Linked DNA regions of Homo sapiens: all the other regions are linked to region 3. Evidence: fine-mapped expression QTL. A gene starts in region 3. Each other region holds a variant in brackets. All regions are shown on one strand. Distances are between the middles of the regions.

The links. PIP is the estimated chance that this variant, and not a neighbour inherited with it, causes the effect.
Region 1: its variant is fine-mapped to the expression of SULF2 in testis (GTEx, PIP above 0.99).
Region 2: its variant is fine-mapped to the expression of SULF2 in whole blood (INTERVAL, PIP above 0.99).
Region 4: its variant is fine-mapped to the expression of SULF2 in whole blood (TOPMed, PIP above 0.99).
Region 5: its variant is fine-mapped to the expression of SULF2 in whole blood (TOPMed, PIP above 0.99).
Region 6: its variant is fine-mapped to the expression of SULF2 in whole blood (TOPMed, PIP above 0.99).
Region 7: its variant is fine-mapped to the expression of SULF2 in blood mononuclear cells (TOPMed, PIP above 0.99).

The regions. Positions count from the first base shown.
Region 1 is chr20:48,068,722-48,072,929 of GRCh38, reverse strand. No RefSeq gene overlaps it. Among named protein-coding and RNA genes, the nearest start is that of LINC01522, 81 kb to the right of the region's middle. The variant G/T (reference allele first, on the strand shown) is at 1,788.
Region 2 is chr20:47,681,822-47,686,029 of GRCh38, reverse strand. SULF2 (sulfatase 2) reads left to right here. Exons shown (of 21, transcript NM_001387048.1): 6 at 1,449-1,599; 7 at 2,861-3,036. Among named protein-coding and RNA genes, the nearest start is that of SULF2, 100 kb to the left of the region's middle. The variant G/A (reference allele first, on the strand shown) is at 1,639.
Region 3 is chr20:47,783,435-47,787,642 of GRCh38, reverse strand. SULF2 (sulfatase 2) reads left to right here and starts at 2,162. Exons shown (of 21, transcript NM_001387048.1): 1 at 2,162-2,300. LOC124904920 (a long non-coding RNA gene) reads right to left here and starts at 1,889. Exons shown (of 2, transcript XR_007067618.1): 1 at 1,481-1,889; 2 at 758-1,238. It overlaps LOC124904921 (a long non-coding RNA gene), which reads left to right. Exons shown (of 3, transcript XR_007067619.1): 3 at 227-303. RefSeq lists an enhancer at 875-1,044.
Region 4 is chr20:47,763,077-47,767,284 of GRCh38, reverse strand. All of the region lies in intron 1 of SULF2 (sulfatase 2), which reads left to right. Among named protein-coding and RNA genes, the nearest start is that of SULF2, 20 kb to the left of the region's middle. RefSeq lists a silencer at 686-980 and an enhancer at 853-1,625. The variant C/T (reference allele first, on the strand shown) is at 1,895.
Region 5 is chr20:47,738,478-47,742,685 of GRCh38, reverse strand. All of the region lies in intron 2 of SULF2 (sulfatase 2), which reads left to right. Among named protein-coding and RNA genes, the nearest start is that of SULF2, 45 kb to the left of the region's middle. The variant T/G (reference allele first, on the strand shown) is at 1,918.
Region 6 is chr20:47,903,481-47,907,688 of GRCh38, reverse strand. It overlaps the pseudogene RNU7-92P. Among named protein-coding and RNA genes, the nearest start is that of LINC01523, 78 kb to the left of the region's middle. The variant G/A (reference allele first, on the strand shown) is at 2,221.
Region 7 is chr20:47,675,509-47,679,716 of GRCh38, reverse strand. SULF2 (sulfatase 2) reads left to right here. Exons shown (of 21, transcript NM_001387048.1): 8 at 913-1,041; 9 at 2,583-2,639; 10 at 3,094-3,223. Among named protein-coding and RNA genes, the nearest start is that of SULF2, 110 kb to the left of the region's middle. RefSeq lists an enhancer at 430-930. The variant A/G (reference allele first, on the strand shown) is at 1,633.

The DNA of each region.
Region 1 (4,208 bases), 290 kb before region 3:
AAAATCAATTATGACAGGTATCAAATCACAATCGTATTGAGCCTCAGTTGGACATACTTTAAGTTATATTACGGTTTTCTCTTAAAATATCCAGTATTTACAATATGCTGAAAATTTTACCCATTTATTTATTTATTTTACACAAGTAAATATCTTAAAAATATAAAATATATATGTAATTTATAAATATATAATTACATCCAAATATAAATTTAAACTTATAAAAAATTTAGCTGGTAGCTTAGGAATGCAGGAATATAGACATGATTTTTCAAGTTGAAAGAGATGCTAGATGTGTCTGCAGAAGTCAACAGGGTCAGATCTGTTTTTTGAAGGGCCTTGTTTGCCCATTACATGCTGGGAAAACAAGGAATGAAATAAGGTAACATTCACAGAGGATGTCAAAGGATGTCTACTTCAAGTGCCCAATGACAAGGTAATAATGTGCTGTCGGAGAAGGAAAAGATTGCTGTGGACGAAGGTGATCACAATGGGAGGCAGAGGGCCACTGAGGTTAACCCAGGACTTGGAGGAGTGTTGAATCGATCTAGTCTTGGAGAAAAAGTTGCCAGGGAAGTGGAGAAAAATAGAAGTGACTTAAGGATCCTGGAGTCCCTTCATTGGCAAGCAGATCAGCTGGTTGACACTCAGTTATTCTCAATTGTGATAACAGTAGTAATATTACTATTCGATATTTATTGAACACTGTTTTTAGGCATTGGCCTGAGACATCTTGATATACAGATATAGGCTCTGAGATTCTAGCACCCATCCTTGGCCACTACTCCACGCTACTTCTCTTGTGTTTCCTGGGCTGTTGTTCATGCAGTCAGTCTTTCTTTTCTTTCTTTCTTTCTTTCTTTCTTTCTTTCTTTCTTTCTTTCTTTCTTTCTTTCTTTCTTTCTTCTTTCGTTCTTTCTTTCTTTTCTTTCTTTCTTTTCTTTCTCTCTCTCTCTCTCTCTTTCTTTCTTTCTCTCTCTCTCTTTCTTTTTCTTTCTTCTCTCTCTCTCTCTCTTTCTTGATGGAGTCTCACTCTATCACCCAGGCTGGAGTGCACTGGTGCATCTTGGCTCACTGCAACCTCTGCCTCCCGAGTTCAAGCAGTTCTCCTGTCTCAGCCTCCAGAGTAGCTGGGATTACAGGTGCGCACCACCACACCCGGCTAATTTTTGTATTTTTAGTAGAGACAGGGTTTCACCATGTTGGCCAGGCTGGTCTCAAACTCCTGGCCTCAAGTGATCTGCCTGCCTCAGCCTCTCAAAGTGCTGTGATTCTAGGCATGAGCCACCCTGCCCGGCCCCTTTTTTATTTCTTTTAGCAAATAATTGTTGCGTGTTGACATGGGCCAGGCAGTTGGATATATTTATTCATCTTAACTGTTGGTAAGTTCTCATCTGCACTGATTTCCCTGCAAAAGCCTCGTTCTTGGCATGGTTTGATTGGGAAGGAGTGGCAACTCCCTTCTCCCAGCCTTGGAAGGGAGCCATGGTCTCTCTGCTCCCAGGTCCAACCCATCCTGGCTAGTTCTTTGAGTGTCCACTGCAGAGGAGACAAAACTCCACTTTCAACCTCTTAGGGTTCCAGCTGGGCTCTAGAATGAAATCGACCTAAAATAGATTAAGAGGAGAAAAGCATACAAATTTATTTAGTACAAGTTTTATGTGGCATGGGAGCCATCTTAAGGAAATGAAGACCCAAAGAAGCAGAGTCAGTCCCTCAGATAGTGAAATTGGACAGAGAACAGTAAGTTGTGAAAAAGCAGCTCACTCATGTGGGGAGGCTGAAAA[G/T]ATAAGAGTTGTTTTAACAAGGTCTGTACAGAATTATCTCGGCTAGGACTCCCCATCAAAGAATGTTTCTTTTCTCCTGGCACAAAGAGGGCATCTTTCCCATGGGAATTTTTATCTCCCATCTTCAGGAAGAAAATGTGAGATCAGAATGCTCTTCTTGCATCTGCTGTTTTTCAAGCACCTTTAGTTCACAGTAATCCTCAAGTTGAAGCAGCGTATTTGGGGTGGGTGAGAGAGTTCTCACCCTTCACCACCTTTCTCAAAACCCTGAAACCTCTTCCAGTCTGCACCACACCCTCCTGCTCAAAGTTTATGAAGTTTTCCCCAGGACACCTAATCATATTGGACACAGGAACTACCTATTACACTTCTGAATCTCCCCAAGATTTCTAGCTCAGAGACGCCTTCTGAGATGAGATCTGAGATTTTGTTCAGTTATGAGTTCCCCCCGAAATGGACAGTACCTTAAACAAGATAAAGTGTCCTTCTGTCTTATGTAAAGGAGGACAGCCTAAGGCTAATACAGCGGCCCCCATGCCATCGAGGAGCAAGGCTCCTTCTAGCTTGTTACTCTGCCATGATCAGCAAAGGGTTTCTCACTCATAGCTCAAGGTGACGGCTCCAGATCAGACGCCTGAGTCTGCATTCCAGCTGGCAGACGGACAGAGGGAATGTTCTCACTCCTTAAGATACCTCTCAGAATCTGGACACAACAAATAGGTTTATATTCCCCCAACTAGAACTTCTTAGCCACATCTACCAGCAAGCCTGGATGGAAAATGGAGTTTTGATTCTATATGGCCATATGGCAAATAAAATATCTAATAAAAAAGAAGGAAAACAGATGGCGACGAGGAGCCACCGCAGTCTGCCATAGCATCTCAACACATCCTCTCCACCTTGACTTGACCCATCTCTCCAGCCCAGCCCCATCCTCTGGTTCTATTTCCCCCCCGAGGCTTGGAGATCAGGGCACAGAGCCTCCCTGTCTGTTTGCAGCCCTCCTCCCCATCCCCCAGGAAAATCCTAGCTTAGGAGTTACTAATACCAATACTGAGTATTTCCCAGGCCCTTGTGCTTCTCTGACTTGTAACATTTAGAAATTGTAAGAACATGTTCACAGATGGGCTTTTCCATTAATTTATAATCCAATTTCCATCTTTTGAAGCAAAAATAAAGGTTTTCTTCTCATTTAGTTTGTCAGCTGTCACCAGGAGGTGGGCAGGAAGGGCCCTTACATGTCAGATGCTTGGGTGGTGGCTACACAGCACTCAACAGCTGTTGGAGCATGAAAAGGATGAGCTCGTGACGGTGCAAGGTCTTAACCAGAACATCTGCCAGGATGCTTGCAGAAAAGGAATTTAGTCAATGTCGGTGTTGGGGATCCTCTGGAAGGAACAGTAAATCAGGCTTTTTGGTGTCTCAACAGCCAGGAATAATGCTGTGTGTGTCATCCTATAAAGTACTGACATTTCCACTAAAGACACAGGAATTATGAATTGGAGCAGAAACCCTGAGACATTCCAAATTTAAAAATAATAATAATTTTTAAAAGTAAGCAACTTAGGTGGTGATAATCTGAATTAGCTCCAGTTTTGCTCTTGGACCCCAAAGTGGAAGCATTGATGAGCTCAATGTACTAATAATCTTAAATATTTAGTTGAAGTACCGGCCAGACGCGGTGGCTCACGCCTGTAATCCCAGCGCTTTGGGAGGCCGAGGCAGGGAGATCATCTGAGGTGGGGAGTTTGAGACCAGCCTGGCCAACATGGTGAAACCCTGTCTTTACTAAAAATACAAAATTAGCCAAGTGTGGTGGTGTGTGCCTGTAATCCCAGCTACTTAGGAGGCTGAGTCAGGAGAATTGCTTGAACTCGGGAGGTAGAGGTTGCAGTGAGCCAAGATGATGCCGCTGCCCTCCAGCCTGGGCATCAGAGTGAGACTCCATCTAAAAAAAAAACAACAGTATTTAGTTGAAGTAATAGTATAAACACCCACACTGCACTCAATTGTTGGACCACGGGACATTTATTCTAATCACTTGGTTAGAAAGAAATTTAGACTTTAGAAAGGCCCCACCGGACTATTTATAAGCTAGGAACCAAGAAATAAACAATTATGAACTAGGGGTCAGTTTATTCCTCCAAGTTACCATATACCTTATTTACTCTGAGTTTATCTACATTGTATTCTTCCAAGGAAAACTTCTAATAAAGATTCCTCAGAGCATTTTATTCCTTCTTTTTTCTTTTGTTTTGTGTGGTAAATAAACTATTGATTTTGTTTTCATGGTAATTTAAGGGATAATTCAGCTCCATTTGATAACCACCACCTTAATGTATTCAAAGTAAACAAATCGTAGGGTTTCAATTAGTTATTTTTGCCATCAAAATCGACCACATCATGACAGGCACTGTGGAG
Region 2 (4,208 bases), 100 kb after region 3:
TGTATTCTCCTTGGGTAGGAAATGAGGGAACTGATGCCTTGGGAGGGGACTAACTGGCCAAAGACAGAACTGGGGCTCGAACCCCAGCAGCTGGTATAGTCAACCACTGCCATGATATCATCATAGATACCTGCTTGGGGTCCCTCCATCCCTCACATCACAGGTGCTCAGACAGAACTTTGCCCAACACACTCCTGCTGCACGATTAAGCAGCATGCCAGGTGCAGTGGCTCATGCTTGTAATGCCAAAACTTTGGGAGGCCAAGGTGGGTGGATCACCTGAGGTCAGGAGTTCAAGACCAGCCTGGCCAACATGGCAAAACCCCATCTCTACTAAAACTACAAGAATTAGCCAGGTGTGTTGACACAAGCCCGTAGTCCCAGCTACTAAAGAGGCTGAGGCAGGAGAATCACTTGAACCCAGGAGGCAAAGGCTGCAGTGAGCTGAGATCCCACCACTGCACTCCAGCCTGGACCACAGCAAGACTCCATCTCAAAACAAAGAGGCCAGGTGCAGTGGCTCATGCCTGTAATCCCAACACTTTGGGAGGCCAAGGTGGGCAGATGACGAGGTCAGGAGATCGAGACCATCCTGGCTAACATGGTGAAACCCCATTTCTACTAAAAATACAAAAAAATTAGCCAGGTGTGGTGGCACGCGCCTGTAGTCCCAGCTACTTGGGAGGCTGAGGCGGGAGAATCACTCATACTGGGAGGTGGAGGTTGCAGTGAGCTGAGATTGCGCCCCTGCACTCCAGCCTGAGCGACAGAGCGAGACTGTCTCAAAAAATAAAAAAGAATGTGGCATGTCCCAAATGTGCACATTCAGGTGCCTTCCTCACAATTCTGGCCTTACACATAAAACTATGACTTATTTCATTTTTAAATCCATTTCTATTATTTCAAACTAAAATCTATTGCAAAAGGATATTCCGTGGTCCTACCTTAACCACAATAACTGCCACCTGCCATTCACCAAAGGTAACTGCCATCTACCAATAATAGGTACAAGGCACACAAAGCAATGCTATGGAATTTGAGTTGGGTACTGGTTCCCGATGAAGGCTCTGAACTTGACTTTCTTCCCTTTTTTCAAAAGGAAGACGAGCAAAGTCTAGAGAGGTGTTAAAGAAACACTAGCACCAAACAGACTTTGCCCTGAGAGAGCCGACAAGGGACTGGCTGTCTCACTTTGTCACTCAAGGTCACTGAATGCTGTGCCTCTTAGGAGCTTCCCAAGTGCACACTTCACACGTGGAGAAACGCTGAAACAGGGTTTGGATAAGCCCCTGACATGCCAATGTCCCCTTTCCCACCAGGAGATCACACCTGGCCCTGGGCTGCAGACACAGCACAGGGTGGCTGCTCATCCGGGCGGGTCTGGCGGGGGCCAGGCAGGGTCCAGGCTGTCCCTGGGTTTGACCGATGTGTATGTCCTTGCCCACCAGCACGCCGAGCTACAACTACGCGCCCAACCCGGACAAACACTGGATCATGCGCTACACGGGGCCCATGAAGCCCATCCACATGGAATTCACCAACATGCTCCAGCGGAAGCGCTTGCAGACCCTCATGTCGGTGGACGACTCCATGGAGACGGTAGGCGCCCGCTGCATGCCTCTTGGTGGGCGTGGCTCC[G/A]AACCCCCAGCCAGGCCAGGGCCGAGACCTCCTGGCCCTTCAGGGTTTTCCTGGAGGAATAGAAATCAAAGGCAGAATGAAGAGGCCCCATGTGCTAGACCTGGGGAACAGCTTGGAGCAATCCAGACAAAAGCCTCTTCCTTCATGAAACATTTTCTAGATCTGTGTTGCCCAATACGGTAACCATATATGCTAGTTATATTTTTTCCTGCTATTTACATTTTTGAACACATTTATTGGGATGTAATTCACATACCATACAATTCCCCCAATTAAAGTGTGCAATTCTGTGGTTTTAATATGCCCAGAGTTGTATAACCATCACCACATCCATGTTAGGACATTTTTCTTACCCCAAAGAGAAACCTCACAGCCCTTAGATGGCCCACTAAATCTCCCTCACCCCCAGCCCCAGACAACTGGTGATCTCTTTCTGTCTCTATAGATTTGGTGTTCTGCACACTTCCTATAAATGGAATCGTACACGCTGTGGCCTTCTGTGCCCAGCGCCTTTCTTTCACTTAGCGCCACGTGTTCAAGCTTCACCCCTGGTGTCGCATGAATCAGTCCCCCTCATTCCCTGTTATTGCTGAATAATATCGCATTGTATGGGTATTGTCACATTTTATTTAGCCATGGCTATTTAAACTGAATGCAGTAACATTATAAAGTCAGTTCTTCTGTCACACAAGCCTCATTTCACATGCTCAGTAGGTTCGTGTGGCTGGAGCCAATATGTGTCCATATCGGACAGTGCAGACATTAACACGGCCACCAATGCAGAAAGTTCTGCCACACGGCGCCCTTCCAGATCGCAAGATCCTGCCATAGGCTGCAGCCCAAGTTTCACTCATTCATTCATTCACCTGACAGCATTATTGAGTGCCAGTGTACGTGGGATACAGCAGGCAGGGAACAAAATGACAAAAGTGTCTGCCCTAATGGAGGCAGCATGCCAAGGCAGGGACACAGATGATCCACAGATAAGTAAAAGAGATGGATGCCAAGAAGGGCCATGAAGAACCGTGGAGGGGAGGGCGGGCCAGGGGTGACAAGAGGCAGGAAGGTGCAGTGACAAAGGGGACAGCCCCTGGGAAAGTTGAGCAAAGACCTGAAGCAGGGGAGGGACGGGGCCTGAGATCTCAAGCGCCTGTCACCCCGGGTCGGAGACGGGCCAGGCACCCAGTCCCCACTGTCCCTTGCCTCCTCGCCCGTGTTGCAGATTTACAACATGCTGGTTGAGACGGGCGAGCTGGACAACACGTACATCGTATACACCGCCGACCACGGTTACCACATCGGCCAGTTTGGCCTGGTGAAAGGGAAATCCATGCCATATGAGTTTGACATCAGGGTCCCGTTCTACGTGAGGGGCCCCAACGTGGAAGCCGGCTGTCTGTAAGTGTGTCATCCCCCAGGGACCCAGGGAGGCCCCTGGGCCCAGCTCAGGGCTTCAACCATGCAGCCCAAACCCAAGCCCACCCTGGGTGGCACACAGTTTTCGCAGATGTACCCCAGGGCCAGCGGAAAGCAATTATGTCATGCATGTTATATCCCTCTGCTGGGGAAGGAGAGGCCGGGAGCTGTTAGCACCTGTGGAAACAGGTGTGGTGGGGCCGTATGCCAGGAAATCCAGGGAGCTGGGCTGTATACGTGTGTGCGCGCACATGCATGTCACCAGCGGGTGGGAATGGTGCTTGGATTTCTGTTCTGGGCTGGGCAGTCTTTGAGCCTGGAGGTTGTCAGGGAGGAACCCCGGACCACAGCACAGGCAGCTGGTTGTCAGCTGGGATCAGCTGAGCCAACTCTGGGCAGCAGCACAAAGGGAAATGCTCTTCCCTCCCATCCTTCCTGGAGGACCACGTGGGCCGCAGCCCTCAGCCAGCCATTCTCCTCGGGCTAACCTTTGAGTTGACATGTTCTGGCAGCGAACATGCTGCGTCTGGGGCAGGGGAGCGGACAGGCCACTGTTCCCGGCAGCAGCTTCCTTGGATCGGCTGGGATATTATGGAGGCTGGCTCAAATGAGGTTTTTGAAAAGCAGATGTGTTGCTATTAAGACTGTCATTTGGTCTGCCTTCTGCTCATGCCCAGATGTGGGAACACACACCCAGCACTCACACAGGGCTGGCTGCGGAATTCCTCCTGAAAAGGCGTTGACAGTGCAGTGTGGAATTCCAGACTGACATGTTCCCACTGCCTTGGACATTTTGCGAGAATTCCAGGAGGCAGGCTGCATGAGTTCAAGGCCAGAGAAAGTGATGACTGACTGTTGACCTTATCAGATCACGCCCGTCTTTGGCTCTTAGCGTCCCCATTGGACTAAGAGCTGTAATAACGACAGTCCACACGTATGGAGTGTCTACTCTTCAGGGCCTGGTCTAAGAACTACATAATAATTCATTGCAAGCCGGGCCCTGTGGCTCATGCCTGTAATCCCAGCACTTTGGGAGGCCCAGGTGGGCAGATCATTTGAGGTCAGGAGTTCAAGACCAGCCTGGCCAACATGGTGAAACCCTGCCTCTACTAAAAATACAAAGATTAGCTGGACATGGTGGCGTACACCTGTAA
Region 3 (4,208 bases):
CATGCCACTATGCCCAGCCTAATTTTTGTATTTCTTGTAAAGATGGAGTTTCACCATGTTGCCCATGCTGGTCTGGAACTCCTGAACTCAAGTGATCCGCCCACCTCGGCCTTCCATACTGCTGGGATTACAGGCGTGAGCCACTGTGCCCGGCCCTCACCTGTTTCTTTTTACTTTCTAATGCCACTACTAGAAAATTCTAAATGATATATATGTCCTTCTGCAGAGATGAGGCGGAAGGAGAGGGGTCTCCATTATTTTTCGGTCTATGATGGTGAAGCCTGACATTCTGTCCCAGGGCAAAGAAGGTGGGAGCTGTTCAGCCTTATCAGTGATGCCAAAGGTAGGGCCAGCACCTGACTTGGAAAAGCAAGTGCAAGGTTTTTCTGATTTATTTAGGCTCTAACTTGATTGGCGTGGCTAACAGAGGTTATGGGGAGGAGCCTAGAGCTCCAAACCCAGTCAGGAGATCCGATTTGAATTTCAGATTTAAAAATGAATGATTTTTTAGTACTAACTTCCTCCCCGTGGATGTCTATATTTATTTGTTAAGTCTGACAACTCTACCATGGAGGATCATATCAGAGAAAGGAGATGCTAGGTTGAAAAGTAAAAACATCCTAGGATTTAAGAGCATGAGCCGGGAGCTAAGGCTTCTTGGCTTCACAGGATCCACCACTTATAACTGTGTGATCTTCGGACAGTTACTAAACCTCTCTTGGTTTCCATGGTAAAACGGGCATAGTAACTTACTGTGTGAGATTGTCACAAGATTTAATAAGTTACTGCTGTTTACAAGTGCTTTCCCACAGCGGCGTCTGTTTCCCCTTAGCTAGCAACTCGGCTGTGTTTTCTGCAGCTGCTGGTGAGTTCTCTGCCCGCTCTTTGCCCACCCGCGTCAGGCCGGTCCCCCTCCGGCCTCTTCTGTGGCGCGAGGGACAGCGGAAACCACGGTAGACAGCACCCCCTTGAGTCCAATTCCTCCCCTTTCGGAGGAAGCCGGTTTCTCCTTTCTATGCTACTCCCGGGCCATTTCTGGACAACAGCTGCTATTTTCACTTGAGCCGAAGTTAATTTCTCGGGGAGTTCTCGGGCGCGCACAGGCAGCTCGGTTTGCCCTGCGATTGAGCTGCGGGTCGCGGCCGGCGCCGGCCTCTCCAATGGCAAATGTGTGTGGCTGGAGGCGAGCGCGAGGCTTTCGGCAAAGGCAGTCGAGTGTTTGCAGACCGGGGCGAGTCCTGTGAAAGCAGATAAAAGAAAACATTTATTAACGTGTCATTACGAGGGGAGCGCCCGGCCGGGGCTGTCGCACTCCCCGCGGAACATTTGGCTCCCTCCAGCTCCGAGAGAGGAGAAGAAGAAAGCGGAAAAGAGGCAGATTCACGTCGTTTCCAGCCAAGTGGACCTGATCGATGGCCCTCCTGAATTTATCACGATATTTGATTTATTAGCGATGCCCCCTGGTTTGTGTGTTACGCACACACACGTGCACACAAGGCTCTGGCTCGCTTCCCTCCCTCGTTTCCAGCTCCTGGGCGAATCCCACATCTGTTTCAACTCTCCGCCGAGGGCGAGCAGGAGCGAGAGTGTGTCGAGTGAGTGTGCGTCTGTGTGTCCCGGCGAGGGTGCGCGCTCGGCGCCGGGAGCGCGGCCAGCCGAGTCCGGAGGCATCGGGAGGTCGAGAGCCGCCGGGACCCCAGCTCTGCGTTCACTGCCCCGTCCGGAGCTGGACTTCGGGGCCGGGGCCGGGGCCGTGCGCCGGGGACAGGCAGGGCCGGGTCGCGGGCCGCGCGTCCCCCAGGCCGGAGGTAAAAGCGCTAGCGCGCGGAGGGCTCGAGGAGGGCACCGCGGCTGGGCCCCCCGCGCCCCGGGCCCCAGCCGTCCGCGGCTCCCGGCCCGACGCTCCCCGCCCCGGAGCGCGCCCGCCTCCCCTGCGTGGAGGCCGGCGGGCAGGCGAGCGGGGGGCGGTAGCGCCGTGCCAAGGGGCTGGCTGGGGCAGCGTGGCCGGCCGGGCTGGGGCGATTTAAGAGCGGTCCGGGCGGGGTGCGGAGCCGGACTTTGGCTGGGGCGGCGCGCGGGGAGGGGGCCGGGGGCGGTGGCGGCGGCGTTGGGGGGCGGGGAGGAGGCAGGAGGAGGAGCAGCAGCGCTCGCCGGGGGATGCAGCAGCGGCAGCGGCGGCGGCGGCGGCGGCAGCGGCAGCGGCGGCGCGGAGTCCCCTGCGCCCAGCGGCCCGGCCGGGCTGCGGCAGAGGCGGCGGCGGCGCCCCGCTCCGGGTGAGGTTGCCGGGGCCGTGCGCGCTGGTGAGTGGGGCGTGGGGGGCAGGTGGGTGGCTGGGGGACGCGGGGCTCGGGCGGGGGCTCGCGGCGGCCGGAGCCTTCCCCGGCGTGAGCCCGGCCGCGAGCGCCGCCCAGGTGAGCCGGGGCTGGTCCGGACCGCCCGGCTCCAGCCCCAGCGCTGCTTGCGGAGGTGGGTCCGGGCGGGCGGGAGGGAGGCTCCGGCGCCGGCCGTCCGCAGAGGGATGACCTGTTTGACCCCGCTGGCTGGCGGGCGGGCGAGGACTTCCCGCCGCGCCCCTGACCCGCGGACACGGCACACCGAGCACAGGCGGCCCCGGGTAGGGGAGCGCGCCTGGGCCGGCCATCCGCAGGGGCATGGCCTTGTTGACCCTTAGGGTTTAGACCCAAGGGACCGGTAGATGCCAGCCCACGTGGGGCTTGTCCGGGCAGGACTCGGGGAAGCAGTGGGCCGGATCTTCAGAGTGGTTGGAAACTCGCAGACACCGAAAGGACAAACAGGATCGAAAAGGCAGACTTCCTCCCAGGCCAGGGCAGAACGAGTTTCCATCGCCTGGCGGAGGGATGCTCCCCTCCCCGGCTCCTCGGGGTTTCAGAAGTCTAGCGGTGAATTCTAGGAGTGCACTTTTCCAAACATTCCTTATAGTAGTTCGTTCATTCGTTCTACAAGCATTTCTGGAGCACCCCCTCGTGCCGGGCACCGCGTTCTGTTCCAGGGAAACGCGGCTGAACAGGATCTGGCTCCTGCGCGCCAGAAGCTGCCGGTTCACTGGGAGGGCAGCAGGGTAGAGAGATGCCGTCTCGGGGTGGAAGATGGAAAGGGAAGCCTGCAATCCTAGTTTGCACACTGGCCTCGGTCCGCAACTCCCCCACCTGCACGCAGTAGGCCCAGCACACAGTAGGAAGAGCAAGCCAGACCTGCCTGTGACGACCCTCTCCTCCTCCTCCTCCCCCTTGAAAGCTTTGATTCATTCCCTGCCCCCCTTTCTGGAAAGTCTTCCTGCAGCTTGTTTTAATCACTTTTTGAGTTAAAAGTCAATATTTAATTAACCAAGTAATTACATTCAGCTTACGTTTCAATCTGGGTATTTGCTCATCTGTGCGTGTTGGGACACCCGCCCTCTCGCCCCTCCATCTGTCCCCTGCCTGTTTCCCACCGGGTCCACCCCCACTTTTGGGGCAGAGAAGGGGAGGCTGCGCTGGAGCAGGTTCTCAGGGGGAGACAGGGAGCAGGAGAGACGGGCTTTCTCTGGAGGACACCCCCGGATCTGCGCGCTCTCCAAATTTCAGCTTGTAGTGAATAGTGAAGGTGATTTCTTGACAGCCTCTGCCTCCCATTACAGAACCACCAGAGGGTTCTAATTAAATTAGAGCCAATCGTTAAGTATAGGAACGGGGTAGGGAGGACAGAACGAAGGGGGCCCCTTCCCTGTAAGAGATGTTCTCCCCAGCTTCGTCTCTCCCACATCATAGAGAAGAGAAAACTCATCCAGACAGCCTGTCGGATGTGTAATTTAGCGTTCTAATAAGCAGCTTGAAAGGCGAAGGTGGTGGGCTTGGCAGATGGCATGTTGGACCTTTGTACATGAAGGCCTCTTCCTTCCCCAGCTAAATTTATATACATAAAGGCCGTGATGTTGGCATCACTGCTGCAGCTGAGGGTCAATGTGGGTTTGGGGTTTGGGCTTTGTGTGTACTTCTTGGGTTTTTTATTTGAATTTATGGCTTTTTCTGAAACCCTAATAACATGTTAAATTTTCAAACTTGAGAGTAGAGTGATGAGTTGACTGTAAAAGTCTGGTCTTGGAGGAGGACAGCATAGCAGTGTGTGTGCATGCACGTGCATGTCCCCCAGTTCAGCTGCTGTCCAAAGAACCCAGTTGATATGCAGTTTCACACCTGATTTGGACCTGA
Region 4 (4,208 bases), 20 kb after region 3:
CCAGCATTTATTGGGCACTTGCTGCATACAGATCTGTTGAAAGTCTCCGTGCATGTTAAACCATCCACTCTGTAGGCAAGTGCTTGTAGGTGTCCTCACTTTCCAGATGAAGTCACTGAGAAGACAAGAGGTTCAGACACTTGCCCAACCTCTAGTAAGTGACGGAGCTGAGATCCAAACCCAGGCAGGCTAGCTCTAGATCCTACCCTCCTCCTACTCAGCGTGTTCCCTGTGGCATTTTCCCCCAAGTAAGTATCAGGCTGTTTGCTTACCTCTGTCCGCTGTTTGTCAGCTCTCTGAGAATCGAGAGTTTTGTCTGTTCTTTTTTTTTTTTTCTACTGATCATGAAACAGTACAAAGCAAGTGGCAGATGCTCAGGTATTTGAGGGTGTGAATTATATGGCCTGTCAAACATCTACCCACTTGACATACAAAACATTTTGGTGCTCAGCTTCCTAAGACTTGAATACATTGTTTCTAAATTTCCTTTGTGCTCTAACTTTAATCCATGGCCACTCTGTTCTCACAGCTTGCCGGTGGTTTGCCATTATTTCCAGTCCTCTTTTCTGATCATTCTCACATGTAGCTGGAATCTTTCAACTCCAGCTTTTCCTATGTTGACTTAGAGTATCACTTCCAGGAGGGCAGGGAGCTTTCTTTTCACTGCTTTATCCACAGTGCCAAGAACTGTGCCTGGCACACACGAGCCTTCAGGAATGTCTTGTTACATCAATAGTTAGGCAGGTAACTGGGTTCCTAAGCCCTGCATTTTTGCCCTACAATCTTTATGCCCTAATTTCCTTTCCAGATCCTGAGCCTTTGTCTTGAAACCTGATCTTTCCCTCCTCCCTCTGAATGACCCTTCTATTGTCTCCTGCCCTGTTCTTGAGAGCCGGCTTGGTTCTCTGCCTCCATTTGGAATTCCAAGAACAGGCAAGGAGAGCCACAAGATGGCCTGGGCTAGGTAGGGGAGACAGGGAGAAGCTGTGGCCCATAGGTTACAGGAGCTTCTGTCCTTTCTTTGACGGCCCCAAAGAGGAGGAGAGAAGGCTGGAGAAAGCCTGTAGCCAGGAAGAAAGGGAGACACAGGGGAGTGTAAAGTTTAACAGATGTGCGTGTGTCATCCCCTGTCTAGACAGCTTCTGGGCTTGTGAGGTTTGGGACCACACTTTCCCATCCCTCCAGGGGCCTCTCTCTGTTTCCTCTGCCTGCTCTTTGCCCAAACTGTTTCTCCTGCCTGAAGCATCCTGTCCTCCACCCTCCTCTTCACTGGCCATCCAAATCCTTTGGATTCTTCAGAACTTTGCTCCTGTTAGGCTGCTCAGTTTATGCTAAGTACTCCTCCAGGAAGCCCTCCCTGACTGCTCCCAGGCCAGCAGTTTCCCCTTTCCTCTTGCTGTTTATACAACACACTTAACCTCAGTCCCTTGTATCACTTGTTGCTTTCCAAGTCAGCATAAGTGTCAAAAGAGTAGGCTCTGGGGTCAGAATGTCTGTGTGCAAATAGCCATGCTGGCTTGCTTGTTTTGTCTGTCACTTGGAGGTGGCACATCCAAGTGAACCTCCCAGGGGACAGGGAAGAGTGGATTACTGTTGTAATCGGGCAGGATTCTCCTATCACTGAACACTGCCTCACATATAGCAGGCCCTTAATAAATATTTGTAAAGTAAATGAAGGAAGAGAGAAATGATCAGGCTCCCTGGACCACCTGAGGAGGCCCTCAGGTCTGTTGCTGGGCTCTGGCCCCAGCCCGTGGGACATATCTGCACACCCACAATTTCCTTTCTTCCCTCCTCTCATGAGTGTTTCCCGTCTGACCAATGCCGCCTTCTGCCTCTGGCCCCTTCTTCCTCTCCCACCACCTCAACTGCCTAATTATTACCAAACTTCTCT[C/T]TCCTGTTTTTTTTTTTTTGTTTTGTTTTGTTTTTTTTTAAGGCAGTGTCGCTCTGTCACCCAGGCTGGAGTACAGTGGCTCGATCTCGGCTCACTGCAGGCTCCACCTCTGAGTTCACGCTATTCTCCTGCCTCAGCCTCCCAAGTAGCTGGGACTACAGGCGCCCGCCACCACGCCCAGCTAATTTTTTTGTATTTTTTTTAGTAGAGACGGGGTTTCACCGTGTTACCCAGGATGGTCTCGATCTCCTGACCTCGTGATCCGCCCGCCTTGGCCTCCCAAAGTGCTGGGATTACAGACGTGAGCTGCCGCGCCCAGCCCTCTCTCCTCCTCTTGTTGGATTTGGAGGTGGAGAGAAGATGGGAAGGGAGGACCAAAGGGACAGTATTCAGCACCCATGCTGCACGACACTGGGCAGGTTCTGGAACCTGTCCGTGCCTTATCTTCCTTGTCTGTAAATGGAGCATCCCAACTCACAAGGTGGTTGTAAGGGTGGCGTGAGGTCACACACTAAAAGTGCTTAGAATTGTGCAGGGCCCCTGATGTTAGCTATCATTCATTATTGTTCTTCTAGGGTGTTTCCTGTGTTGGTCTGGGTGCTCCCTGTTGCAAATGACAGCCCTAATTCGGACTCTCTTAAGCAGCAAAGGGCACTTTTTTGAGTCTGTACCTGGCTACAAGATGCAACTTGGTCCACCCCATTGTCACCAGCATCCTCTCTCTCGGGCTCCATCCAATGGGCGGCCACCATCAGCACCATATTCATGCCTCCTGGCACCCAGCACAGTCTCCTCCAGCCTCCAGGACTCCCTCTCGCTTATTGGCCAGACTTGGGTCACATGTCTGCCCCAGGACCAATCGCTGAAGCTAGAGCTGGAATTGCTGATTGGCTCCACCTGGCTCACATGCGCTGCCCTGCAGTCAAACCATATATAAGGGGGGGTGGGAAATAAGAGCACTTGTGGCCTCAAAGCACTAACAGGGGCTGTTACCAGGAGACAGGAGATAATTCTTTGTTAAGCCAGTAAATATTTTGAATGCCTGCTATGCCGCAAGCATTGTTTTAATTGTTGAGGATATAGATCTGAACAAAAATGACAAAAACCTGTACCTTCAGGGGGCTGATATTCTGCTGGAGGACATCCGCAAAGAAATAAAGGAGCTAGCTGTGAGAGGTGGTAAGTGCTACTGGGGAGGGCAGAGATTTCGGTTTTAACCTGCCAAGGTGAAATTTGAGCAAAGACCTGAGGAGGGGGAAGAAGGGATGGTGAAGATAACCTGAATGAAGGCTCCAGGCAGAGGGAGCAGCAAGTTCAAGGGCCCTGGGGTGGGCTGTGCTAGCATGTGCAAGGAACAGTACAGAGACCGTGTGGCTGGAACCAGGTGTGCAAGGGAGAGAGGGGAAGGCAATAAGGTCGGAGAGGTGATGGAGCAGGTTGGGTGGGTTCTTGTAGCCCCTTTGGAGGGTTTTTGCGTTTTACTCTGCGTGGGATGGAAGTTATTGAAGGCCGTTCAGTGGAGGAAGGCAGGCCCTTGCTTTTGTTTTAACAGGATCTGTCTGGCTGCTTGATGGAAGGGACGAGGTAGAAGCAGGGAAACCAGTTAGGAGGCTGTTGGAATCCAGGCAGGATTCTCCTATCACTGAACACTGTGCCTCATAGGAGGTCCTTCATACGTATTTGTAAAGTGAAAGAAGGAAGAGAGAGAAATGATCAGGTTCTCTGGACCACCTGGGGAGGCCGCTAGGTCTGTTGCGGGGCTCTGGCCCCAGCCCGTGGGACGTATCTGCACACCCACAGTTTGCTTTCTTCCCGCCTTTCATGGACATTTACCATCTGACCAGTGCCTCCTTCTGCCTCTGGCCCCTTCTTCCTCTCCCACCACCTCAGCTGCCTGATTGTTCCCAAACTTCTCTCTCCTCCTCTTGTTGGATTTGGAGATCCTCAGAGGAAAACAGCCCATCTGGGTCTTTCTAAACAGGTCTGGATGAGGTCCCAGGTGTTTGTTCACCGCTGTGGTTTGTGGCATTGGGAAGGTGAGGGCATCAGTCACTCAGACCCGTTCCTCTTGGCAGATCGGCAGAGAAATTGAGAACTAAAAATGATGTTTCTAAATGCTCAGGACGTTAGCTGTTTCCAGAGATGTCTCCTGGGCTGGCGAGCCTTTGCCAAGGTCCTGGAGAAGACTCAGGATGGAGAGGAGGAGCCAGAGAGACCTGGAAAGGAACTGGTGGGAAGGAGAGGTGTTGTCCACAGCAGGGATGGAGTGGCAGGCGGCTGGTGCTGCGTGAGTTCACTGGGTGCTCTCTCGGTT
Region 5 (4,208 bases), 45 kb after region 3:
GATTGAGATTAAAGGGTTTTTTCTTAAATCACGTTAAATACAAATATCAAACAAATCATAGCACAGTGGTACACAGGCCCCCAAAAAGCCACCGTGAATGGGGAGGCAGTTCAGGAGTGTCATGGGAGAAACTGCATTCTAGCAGTTGGGTGGTTTGGGCCCCCAAGTTTAAATCCCAACAGATGGGCCTGGGGGTGAGGCCTCTCCAGCCCATCAGAGTCACAGAGGTGTCAGAGTGACCTCACCCTCAACCCAGTATGGTGGGAAGGTTTGGTCATGGAAAGAAACCGGGTCTGTTTTTGTCTGCATGTCCCCAGGTTTATGTTGGACGAAAGAAGTTGAGGTTGGCTGGCCCAGCTGCATTGAAAAGCTTGAAAACTGGCCTTTTCATTTCTGTGTGGCCGTGTCGTTCAGGTCCTTCCCTCCCGTCGGAGCTGTCCTTCTGCATTAGGGCTGGGGCTGGGCAAGGGGATGAGATCATATGTTTTTGTGTTACAGAGGTAGGTTTACACAGCCTCGTCGCTATGGCAGTTTTAATAAAGCAGGTTACTGTCCCCAAGGGGAGGCTTAGCACATAGCACTGCCCATGCACAGATGCTGCTGTCATTCCGGGGCACTGTTGTCCTTTACTCGTGGATTGACACAGCGCTCCTCCGCCAGCTGATTTGGGAAGGGTGAGTGCTGGCCAAGAGCACCTCACAGCTCGCTTCCTCTGGAATGAGGAGGAAGGAGATCTAAGCATTTCGAGACCCTGGATCTGAGCCCATTAAAAACAAGAAATGGTTCTGGAGGCTGTTCACTGTTTGCCAAGGCAGCACTGGGGGCTGCGGAGTGCAGGTGATTTCATCAGGTGACGGCCTGCCCTGCGTTCCCTTCCAGGAGAAGGGTCTGACCAGTTAGGTGGGTGGCCAGCTTTTGTCCTTTCTGCAGGGTCTGGAGACCGAGAGAGGCTGAGCTCTCACTACCAGCTGCTTCGTCCTTTCTCCTTCGTGTTTGGGACTAGGGAGCAAAGGATCGATTCCACTTGGGGTGCCCTGGACTCGTGCATTTAAGAAATATTTATGAGCACCCACTGCGTGCCAGGCACTGTTCTAGGCTGAGCTGTGGAGCCATCAAAAGTCACAGGGAACAGCAAACGGGATCAGTAGATAAAAACATAAAAGTATATCATGTGTTAGATGATGAGTGCAGGGTTGAAAATGTCAGGCAAGGAAGGGAGTAGAAAATATTGGGGGCCAGGGAAGACTCCACGGAGAAGGGAACTTTTGAGTAAAGACAAGAAGGGGGTGAGGGCACCGCTGCGGGGCTCCGGGGGAGAGGTCTTCCAGGCAGAAGGAACAGCAGGGCACAGGTTCTGGGATGGGAGCACGCCTGGTCAGTCTGTGGACAGAGCAGGGGACCCTGTGGCTGCAGAGAGTGGGCGGAGAGGGGGATGGGGTTAGGGAGGGGAGGGGATTGGGTCCCACCACACTCTGTGGATGGCCAGAAAGATTTGGGCTCCTCTGAGTGAGCAGGAGCCCCGGAGAGTGTCAGGAGAGGAGACTCTGGCTACACCGTGGGGAATAAGTGACTGGAGTCCAATCAGGAAGCAACTGGCCTGATTTCAGGGAGAGAGGATGATCGCCTGACCCACGGGGGAGGTGGCAAGGGTACGATCGTGGGTGTTTACGTTGAAGAGAGGGCAACAGGCTTTGCTGATGGATTGGATGTGGGAACTGAAAGATGGGAGGAACCGTAGCCAAGATGATTGCCCAAGTACCCGGAGGAAAGGGGAGTGGCTTCGGGAGGAGCAGGAGGGACGGTGACATCAGGGCTTGGCTGTGGGTGTGGCACCTGAGGTCTAATCGACAGCCGAATGACATCAATGGATGTCAGGGTTGTACCAAGCCACACATCAAGGGATGTCAGGTCCGGGTT[T/G]TACCAAGCCAATGATTGCCAAATTCTAATCATTCCCTCACAATTTTCATCATATATCTGTGTGCCACTTGTACGATTATTTACTTTTTAAAAATCGGCTGCAATTGTTTGTTGTTGTTGTTGTTTTAAGAGGATTTCCACCACCCTAAAGGAAAAGCTAAGGTTACTTGCCCTAAGTAGAAGGAAACCAAGCCACGCAATTAATCTAAGGCAATGCCACCCCCTGCCTGGAGCTCCCAGTGGCCTTTCACACCACCAGCATCCCTGGTGTTTGGTGATGTGACCCTGGGCCACCCCCACCCCTGGTGTGCCTGATGAAGTCACCACTAGAGGACCCCCTTCTGGGTCACCAAGGGACCATTCTGAGCTTAACTGAAGCCAAGAGTGGACCAAGAGCATGGGGACCTCTATGCACTTCCTCAGGACACTGTTACCACCTCCCGTGTGACTGTGACATTTTGTGAACGTGAAACTCAGCACCCCGCCTCTGCTAGGCTTGAGTCTTCACTGCCTTCCCAGCTGTGCAGCCTTAGCCAGTCATTCAGCTCCCCAGGTTCAGTTCCCTCTTCTGTCAAATGGGCCATTGGGAGAATTAAGTGATGAATGTCTTCAGCCCAGCCATAAGCATTCAGCCAGTGATAGTCGCCACTATTAATTATAATGATTATTACTGGCATAGAAGACTGCCCTCTTCCCCAGGAATAAGTTGGAGTGCTCTCAGTTCCTTAGCTATATCAGAAGGTTGCAACACCCAAGCCTTCAGGGGTCGGGCAGGTAATGAGAGTGGGTGCAGGTGGTGTAAGACTGTAGGGAGCACGGGGGAGTGTGGCAAACTGGAGAGCACATATCCTGTGTGATGCTATTTAATGTCACATTTTTAAAACCCACTCTACAAGACACCAACACACAGGTCTGTGGACACCAACTGGTTTGGATTCCTGAGATATGAAAACCCGAGTGTAAGATAGTATTTTATATGTTAATTTAGCTGGTCTCTGTTGAGCACATTATGTGCCAGGCACTGTGCTAGGCAGTGAACAAAGTAGGCTGAGTCTCTGCCCTTGTGGTGAAGGCAGCAACATACAAATAAGTGAAATCAAAATGACTTATGTTTGAGGACAGTAACTGCTGTGGAGAGACACGGAGCGGGGAAGCAGAGTGGAGAGTGCTATGGGTTGCGGGAGGTGGTTTCAATACAGGCCAGGGAAGGCCTCTCCAAGAAGGTGGTGTCTGATCAATAACTTGAAGGAGACAGAGGTAGCCCTGTGATTGGAGGAGTGAGAGCATCCCAGGCTGGGGGTACGGCTGAGGCAGGGGCCAGGAGGTGGGAGGGCGGCCAATGTGCAATACTGGGACCTCAGGGGCACGACCTTGGTGCCTTGATTGGTGGTAAAAATTTAAAGTAGAAGCAGCTGATTGCTGAGCAGAGGGCCTTCCCCAGATCCCAGGAGGCTGCAGTGGGTCTGATGCTTGTTTTCAGGTTTCTAGGGGGTTGCTAGGTGATTGGGATCACAGCCTTCACATGCCTGGTAGACCCTGTTTTGGTTTCCCACTGCTGTCCTAACAGATCACAAACTGGGTGGCTTAAAACAACAGAAATTTACTCTCTCAACAGTTCTGGAGGCCGGAAGTCCAAAATCAAGGTGTTAGCATGGCTGTGCTTCCTCAGAAGGCTCTAGGGGAGAGCCCTTCCTTGCCTCTTCCAGCCCTGGGGACCCTAGGAGTTCCTTGTTCCTTGGCTTGTATGTGCATCCCTCCAGTCTCTGCTTCCCTTTGAATGTGGCCTTCCCCTCTGTGCCTGTGCGTCTTCTCCACTTTGTGTCCTATGTGGACACTTGTCACTGGATTTAGGGCCCACCTGGGGAATCCAGAACAAATCTCATTTCAGTAGCCTCAATTTAATTACATCTGCAAAGACACCCTGTATTGGTCTGTCTTCATGCTGCTGATAAAGATATACCCGAGACTGGGTAATTTAGAAAGAAAAAGAGGTTTAATGGACTTAGTTCCATGTGGCTGGGGAGGCCTCAGGATCATGGCAGAAGGTGAAAGGCACATCTTACATGGCGGTAGGCAAGAGAGAATGAGAACCAAGCAAGAGGGAAAACCTTTATAAAACCATCAAATCTCGTGAGACTTATTCACTACCAAGAGAACAGTATGGGGGAAACAACCCCCATGATTCAACTGTCTCCCATCAGATCCCTCTCACAACACGTGGGAAATATGGGAGCCACAATTCAAGATGAGATTTGGGTGGGGACACAGCCAAACCATATCACCCTCTTTCC
Region 6 (4,208 bases), 120 kb before region 3:
CAGATGCCAATTTTGTGCCTCGCTGCCTCACATAACTTGGGAGCATTGAGTAGTGAACAGCTGATCTCCATGAATTAACGTGGGAGGTCCTGTGGGCCCTGAAGCTTTCACACTCACAAACCGGTGTCGGGATGGGTTGTCATGGAGATCAGGTGGCGGGACACCAGGGCTCCCCCAAGGACTCCGGGCCTCCTCTAACGAGCAGGTCACATGGGGATCTGGGGGAGGCATAGGCACGAACTGCGTATTAAATACACCTGACTCACTGTGTCTGTGAGTGCGTGGGCATGTGTGGGTGTGGGAGAGTGCATGTAGGAGTGAGCATGTGTGTGAGCGTACATATAAGTGTGTCTATGTGTGTGTGTGCATATGAGTGTGTCTGTGAGTGTGTATCAGTGTGCATATATGTGTGGGCATTGTATGCATGCATGTGCATGAATGTATATGTGTGAGTGTATCTGTGTGTGAGCACGTGGATGCATGAGTATGTGGGGGCATGTGTATCTGTGTGTGCATATGTGTAAGGATGTTAGTTTGCATGCATATGTGTCCAGATCCCACATGGGATGAAAATTCAATGGCTCCGAAGATCTGCTGGACACATTTCAGATCCTAACAGAGCTCTTAAGCTCCAAGGGGTCATTGAATGGACAATGAGTGTTTGAGTCCAGGTGGCACGGACTCTAGGAAGGCAGCTCCTAGAGCTTCATAAATAACCCCTCACCCCCTTTCTCTCCCTCACAGTCACCCACCCCTACCCACGTCCCTTCCTCTCCCCATCTCTGTTTGCCTTGCAAGCCTCTCCCATTCCCGGTCTCATTTCTTGCATGTTCATCACTTCATCCTGCAGTTCAATTCCCCTCCAGCCCTCAGCATGGACTGTGGGATGAGAGAGCCACAGCCTTATCCCTGACGTAACCAAAACTCTTGGCACCAGCTTAGACCTGTTTCTCAGTCTTATAAACGGTCTCAAATCAGGGAAATGTAAGGTTCTGAGGAAAATGATCACTACTAGGTGATTCCCCTTTGTGTTACCGTAAGGCGGTGAGACAGAGATTCTCTAACGTTTTTAGTGCAACCCACCTAAAAACACATTGCAAACTGCCACCCACCACACACAAGCACATCCATTTATACAGATACGCAGCACGTTTACCCAAACGACACTCACCCTCGCTGCACACAACGCGCTCTGATGCCTCCTGACCTAGTCTATTCTGGTTCTATTGCAGATTTTCAATGCCGGGCTTGACACTCTAAATTGATTTCAAGACCCACTAATGCATCACAGCCTGTGATTTGATAAACCACGCTAAGACACATCCTGTTGTGAGGTGTTCGATCTAGAGGCCGTTTATCCTGCAGTGAGCGGGGGAGGGGGGGCAGGATTCACCCTGAGGCGCGCCTCCTCCTTCTCAGTCGGGCAGGGAGGAGGGGGCTCTGTGCCATGGGACCCACAGAGGTCCTGGTCTCAGGGTTCATGCCCTGTAGCTGCTGTGTGTCCAGCAGCTGGCAGGGCAGGAAGGTTGGGGGTGGGGGTGTCACTCCCACAGGCACACAGTAACCCGCAGAACCCTGGCCTAAAGCTGCTTAGCTCTGTGGCCTCTTGAGCCCACCTGGGAGCAGGCCCTGGAGGACAGCTGTTGGGGGCAGGGACTCCCAATGCACAGTACAGGCCATGAGCTGGGCAAGCTGCTCCTTCCCATAACGTCAGACCCTTCTTCTGACCCACCTAGGACCAGTTCCTGGGAGTTTGCAGGCAATCCTGGGCCCAGAGAAGCAGGCAGATGCGGCTGTTGATAGCACTACTGTGGGTTGTGAATATCATCCTGTGGTTATTACTTTACTTTCATTACCCGCCAGTACACTCGATCCTGCACGTGTCCCCTCACTTCACGCTCACGGGGTTTGCATGATGGGACGAGCGCTCCCAGTAGGTGATGAGGGTGATAAATGGCACCTGACATTCCTGGAGCACCTGTTGGCGCCCAGGGCGGGGCTTAGTGCTCCATTTGAGTCTGGAGTCTTTACTCTGCCATAGCAGCTGTGTGACCCCCGGTAAGTGGTTTAACCTTTCTGTGCCTCTTCTTTCTCAACTCTAAAGGTGGATAATAAAGTCCCTGCCCTCAGGCAATCAAAGATGTGTTAGAAGGGCTTGGCACATGGCAGGCAGACAGTATACATGGTTGGGATTAACCCCACTATACAGATGAGGAAACT[G/A]AGGCTCAGAGGCACTGGCCTGGCAGGCAGTGGGACCTGCACCCAGGCTCGTCTGACACTGAGCTCTTTGGCCTCCCTCCTTTACTGCTGCCTTCAGAAGAGACAGAGGAGAGGGCCACCCCCTCACACGCACACAGGGGCTGACCATCCAAGGTCGCCAATCACCTGGCTGCGAGCAGCCCTGCTCCCACGGGGACACTGACCGCTCCGAGTGCCCGGCATTCAGGCCTCGAGCCACCCACTCTGCACTGCACGGGGCCTCCTTGGAACGCGTCCCTCCCCAGAGGCTGTTTCTCTGTGGGATGGCGCTGCTCTGTGGGGAGGACCCCACCTCCCTCCTTCATGACGACCTGCCCTCACCTGGCTCGTCTCTTGGCAGACGCTGTCCCACACGTCTCTGTCATTTCCATGCCACCATGGTGACAGTCTTCCTGGCCACGGGTGTGACAGGGCCTTTTAGTTTCTGACTGACACAGTCACAGCCCGATTTCACCTGATTCCACTTACAAAGGCAGGTTTCCCTTCCCAGCCTCACATGGGGGTGGTCTCCGTGGAGTTCAAGAGGCTGTGGGCTGGGAGGAGGGGCAGCAAAGAACCCCAGCACACCCCAAGCAGGAGGGGGCAGCGTCCATCCGGCCATCTGGAGACAGCCAAGACCCTTGGCCACTGCAGATCCCCCCACTGAGCCTGGGCCTCCACCCCCACTTCACACTGGAACAGATGCTGGAGGGGCAAACCCCAAATACCCTCCCTAACCAGAAACCAAAATACTGAACTCCACCAGATCCCAGCCCAGCCTGGCCAGATAGTCTGACTTTCCAACGAAGTCGAAAATACAGATTTTTAGAATTAAAATGTAAATGCTGGCAACTAATTCAAATTCAATTGTGTGGTGGGTTTTTTTTGTTTTTTGTTTTTTGTTTTTGCATGGAGGGCTTTCTGGTGAAAACCAGACCCCACCTGGGAGCAGGCCCCGGGGGGACGGCTGTGGGAAAAGGGGACCCCTTCCCCACAAGTGCAAAGAACAGGCCACGAGCTGGCACAGATGCCTCTTCCCGAGCCCACCTGGGAGTGACAACCGGAAAACGTGCTAGACAAATTCTAAAAGAGCTGTAACACCTTACATTATTTTAAAAGTCCCCAGGTTGAGTTAATCCCAGACCCTTTACAGCTTTTTCCTTCTGATTGGTGAGGCCTCAGCTCAAATGTCACCTCCTCAGAGAGGCCCTCCCCCATGGCCCTATTTAAGTAGCTCCCACCAGAGTCTCAGTCAGCGACACGCACCCTTCATTTCCTTCTTGGCGCTGACCCCTACCTGCAAGTGCCTCGTCATTTGCGGTTGGCATCTGCACTGTCCGTCTCCACCAGCACTTAGGCTCCGTGAGGACAGACGCACGTCGCCTTGTGCCCTGGTGAATCCCAAATCCCTGCCCTGAGCGCAGTGCCTGGCACAGAATAGACACAGGCAATGAGTGCTGCTGAAAGTTCCCCATGGAGCCAGTGGTGATCTGTCCAGGCTCTACAGCCCTCCCGCTAAACGTGTTCAGAGACGGGGACGCTGGGGCCATCCTCCTTGCTCCACTCCTGGTGAAGAGCCCTCAGACCCATAAGATGGGCTTGTCCATATCACCTTCTCAGGTGAGCCTCATACATAAGCAGGTTCAGTGGGTTAACCAAGCCTACATCTTTAACCCACGTGATAACCACAGTACCAGGTTTCTGCCATCAAATCTTTTCTATCCTCAGTCCTGCCTTGGGAATTCAGACTCACCCAGAATTCAGAGTTTCACAGACTCAGAAGAGAATGTGATGCTAGATTGTTCTGAAATGTTTGGTTTTAAAGCAAGATCAAATGATTACATTTGTGATCTGAAATCATTTGATTGTATCAAGCCATATCCCCTTCCAAATTATTTTCTTTAAATTCTCCCCAGAACGGGGAGCAGTATTAATTGTTTCCAATGAAAAGACTGCCCCTTTCATCAAAG
Region 7 (4,208 bases), 110 kb after region 3:
TCTGCTTAGGCTGAAATCAAGGTGCCGGCCAGGGCTGTGGTCTCATCCAGAGGCTTGACTGGGGAGCATCTGCGTCCCTGCTCATGGGGCAGGTCAAGTGCAAGCAGAGGACTTGAACCCATGCAGTCTGCCTCCCAGACTGCTCACAGTCTAGCTGCTGATTTAGAGTGGCTTGCTTCTTCAAAGCCAGCAAGGGGAGAAAGAAACCAGAGCCAGACTGCTAGCAGGATAGTAGTTGACTATCTCATAACACAACCACGGGAGTGACAGCCCATCACCTTCACAACCCACTGGTTGGCAGCAGGTGCAGGTTGGTCCACACCCAAGGTGAGGGGGTCACATTAAGGTGTGATCACCAGGGACAGGGATTCTGGGGACCACTGAGGCCTGTCACGGGCCTCCTTGGTCATAGAGCAAAGAACTAAAGGGGTGAGGGACGGTGGCCCCTGATCTCCAGGGAAAGGACATTCCAGGCAGAGAGGATGGTAAAGAAGAAGGCCCTGAGGCTGCACTGTGCCTGGGCTGTCAAGGAACAGCGAGGAGCCAGTGTCTGCCCCAGAGGTTCAGGGGAAGGGTTCAGGAAGGGCCAGGATTTGGGCTGGCTGTAAAGGGGGGGTCGCCTTCACTCAGGAAGTGGGGACAGGAAGGGCAGGAGGGGGACAGGGTGAGGCTGTCAGCTCACGGCATGAGCTGAGACACAGAAACTAAGGGGGGGCGAGCACAGAGTGGGGGTTCAGCTGAATCTGGGCCGCAGAGGGGAGCTGCTGAGGTTGAGGTGCCAGACTGCAGCTTCCATACCTGCAGATGTCAGCCTCCCACAAACTGCTGCCCACCTACCGCTCCCCACCCCCCACGCGAGGCTGAGGCACCACCACCTGAGTGACTGAGTCCCCGATCTCCTGCCTCCCCCAGGAATCCCCACATCGTCCTCAACATTGACCTGGCCCCCACCATCCTGGACATTGCAGGCCTGGACATACCTGCGGATATGGACGGGAAATCCATCCTCAAGCTGCTGGACACGGAGCGGCCGGTGAATCGGTGAGGACGGAGCAGGGCAGGTGTTGAGGGGGCCGGGACATTGACCTGCGGGAACTCAGAGCAAAACCCTGTGGGTCTAGAACGTGGGGTCTCCAAGGGTCGGGAGCTGGGGTTCTCAGGTCCCGCCATGCCAACCACTTACCTGCTGTGGGAGAGAAGCATGGTCCCCTCTCCGAGATTCTGTCTTCCCATCTGGAATGTGGCCAAGGTGACCAGTTGGGGACCTTCTCTGAGCTAAAATTACCCAAAGCTTGAAATGATAGCAGCAGTGATGGTAGGAGATGGTGCTAACTGCACGGCGCTTGTGTGTGAGGCCCTATTCTAAGTACTGTGCAGGGAAATCTAGGAATTTGATCCTCACAGTAACCCAGCGAGGTGGACATTATCATCATCCCCATTTTACCAGTTTGGAATCTGAATCCCAAAGCGATTGAGTGACGTGTCGGAGGTATCCCAGCAAGTCTGGATGTAGCTCTGGGAATTCAGATGCTGACTCACCACGCCCCATAACTTTAATGCTGGAGGGTGTGATGGGAACATATTCCTAGGTGTCCAGAGAGGCAGAATAGGAACCGTGAGGGTGAGCAAGTC[A/G]GACAGGTGGGAGGTGGGCTGAGTCAGGGCGGGGAGGCTGGTGTGGCCGCAGCGACATCTGGTGGCCAGCGCTCTTAACAGCCACCAGGTTCCTGGCCTCCAGGTGCTACTTCAACTCCTGGCTTGCACCTCTGGCAGCGGAGCCCTTCCCCTGTGGCCTCCCAGAGGCTCCAGCCAGGCGAGCACTGTGTGCCCACATCTGGCTGCCCTGTAGGGGGACCGTGTCCATTGAGGCTCCTCCCCTGACTGTGAGGCCAGGCAAGCTGTAATGGTATAAAATGGACATGTTTGGGGACACTGGCCTGGGAGCCAGGACACCTGGGGGTCAGGGGACAGGGTGGAAGCTTCCCCTCTCAGCTTCAGAGTCCCCATCTAGGAAATGGAAATGACCAGGTGGCACTGGATGAAACATACAAATTACATACATGCAACTGCAAAGCACCAAAGAAGAAAATACTCCCAAAACCCAATGCAATTAACCTGACATCAAGGCAACCACTGCGCCTGACACTGAGCTCAAGACAGAGCTCAAGACGCCAAACCACTGCGCCTGATGCTGAACCACTGCGCCTGACGCTGAACTCGAGATAGAGCTCGTCTAGTGCCGGGGGAGTTGCTGGGCTTCCTGGGAGGGGCTTGAGATGTGTGTGCGCGCACACACACACACACACACACACACACACAGTTACTTGGGTGGGACTTACAGTGATTTTGACCTGGGTCATTTCTACTGTGTGTGTCTCCAGACCCAAGTCTCTGGGGAAGGGGTGGCTCAACTCAGAGGAGGGTGGGCAATGCTCTAGTGCCCAGCTGGGCACACTCACCACAATTGCTGTCCAGGCTGACCGTAAACCAAGGCTGACTCCTGGTGCCGTCCCTGCTCCTGGGGGAACGGGGGGTCGTGGGAAGCCCTCATGTTGCTGAGAAGCAGGAGCCGTGCTTTTTTCCAGGTTTCACTTGAAAAAGAAGATGAGGGTCTGGCGGGACTCCTTCTTGGTGGAGAGAGGGTGAGTGCCGGGTCCTGGGAGGGACACCCCTGCCCACCTCCCTCCCTCTGCCCAGGAAGCTTCTGTAGCCCCACCGCATCATGCTATTCAGGAGCTGCCCATGGCTCTGAAGTTGGTCCAAAGGCCCCTAAACACAAAGCCCATTCACTGCTCCTATAGACACAGAATTGGGGTCTGAGGTCACGTGTACGCTTTTGGCATGCTTTGTCCAGCCTCTACAATGTCTTCAATTTATTTAATTTATTGCCAACTCATGCAATTTGGGAAGTTTCTTATAAAATTCCAATGTCTTAAGTTTCCTAAACATCAGAAGACCCGGGCAGGTGGCCCTGCGCCCTCCACTGTGAGGAAAAGCCGGAGCCGAGGGGGCACCCCTCTAGGTGGGCACACATGCCTCCGGGGCTCCTCCAGAGCTGAGAGGCCGGCCCCGCGGCTCCTGCTCTCTGCCCCATAGCAAGCTGCTACACAAGAGAGACAATGACAAGGTGGACGCCCAGGAGGAGAACTTTCTGCCCAAGTACCAGCGTGTGAAGGACCTGTGTCAGCGTGCTGAGTACCAGACGGCGTGTGAGCAGCTGGGACAGGTAAGAAGGCTCCCTTCCCTCCCAACGGCTCCCCCTCCTGACTGCAGCCGGCCCTGACCTGCGAGGCTCTGAGAGCCGCTGAGCCAGCAGGGCCAGGGCCTCCCAACGGGTAGTCCTTTGCTGCCGTGTGGTGCCCAAGATGCTGTTTGGTGGTGCAGGATGATGCTCACAATAAGTGATTCATTTCTCAGCAGCCTTTGGACCCTGACCGTGTCAGAGGCCAAGTGTCCCGTGGGTGTGTGTATGCCCTTAGCGCCTCTCTAGCCCTTGCCGATCTCTCTTGCACGAAGGCCCCAGCAGGAGTTAAATTATTTTATTTTCACCATATTCACTTTGACAGTATCCTCTTTGTGACTGGTTTTCCTTTTATAGGAGTAATAAGACATGGCTTTTTAAAATAAATATAGGTAAGGTTTTAAAAAGTGAATTGATTGCAAGAGAAATATTAAGGAAATTATGGCCAGGAACAGTCCGTGGCTCATGCCTGAGGTCCCAGCTACTCCAGAGCTGAGGCGGGAGGATGGCTTGAGCCCACGTGTTGGAGGCTGCAGTGAGCTATGATTGCGCCACTGCACTCCAGCTTGGGTGACAGAATAAGACCCTGTCTCTAAAAACATAAGAAAAAAGAAAATTATCTGGGAAGTATCAGAGATAGCCAGAAACTGACATGTTTGGGAAAGCCTGAAGGAGGCTTTTCTGAGGCTGGAAAGCCAGGGCAGGCTTGGAGAGGAGGGTCGGGGGCGGGGCAGGGCAGGGAGGGGAGTGGGATGGAAACTCTGCCTTGGCTGGCCCAAGGGGTGCCGGAGGTGTGTCCCTGCCCTGCCTGTCAAAGGCTGGGACTTTGAGCTGGGGCTGGAGCTGTGTGCCTGTTTCACCTATGAGAAAAAGCAAAACCAGGGCCCTGGTATTGAAGGCCAAGGCCTGAAGTGGATGCGTTTCTGATGGACTGCATTTGAATGACTCCATCTTAACACTGCACACAGAA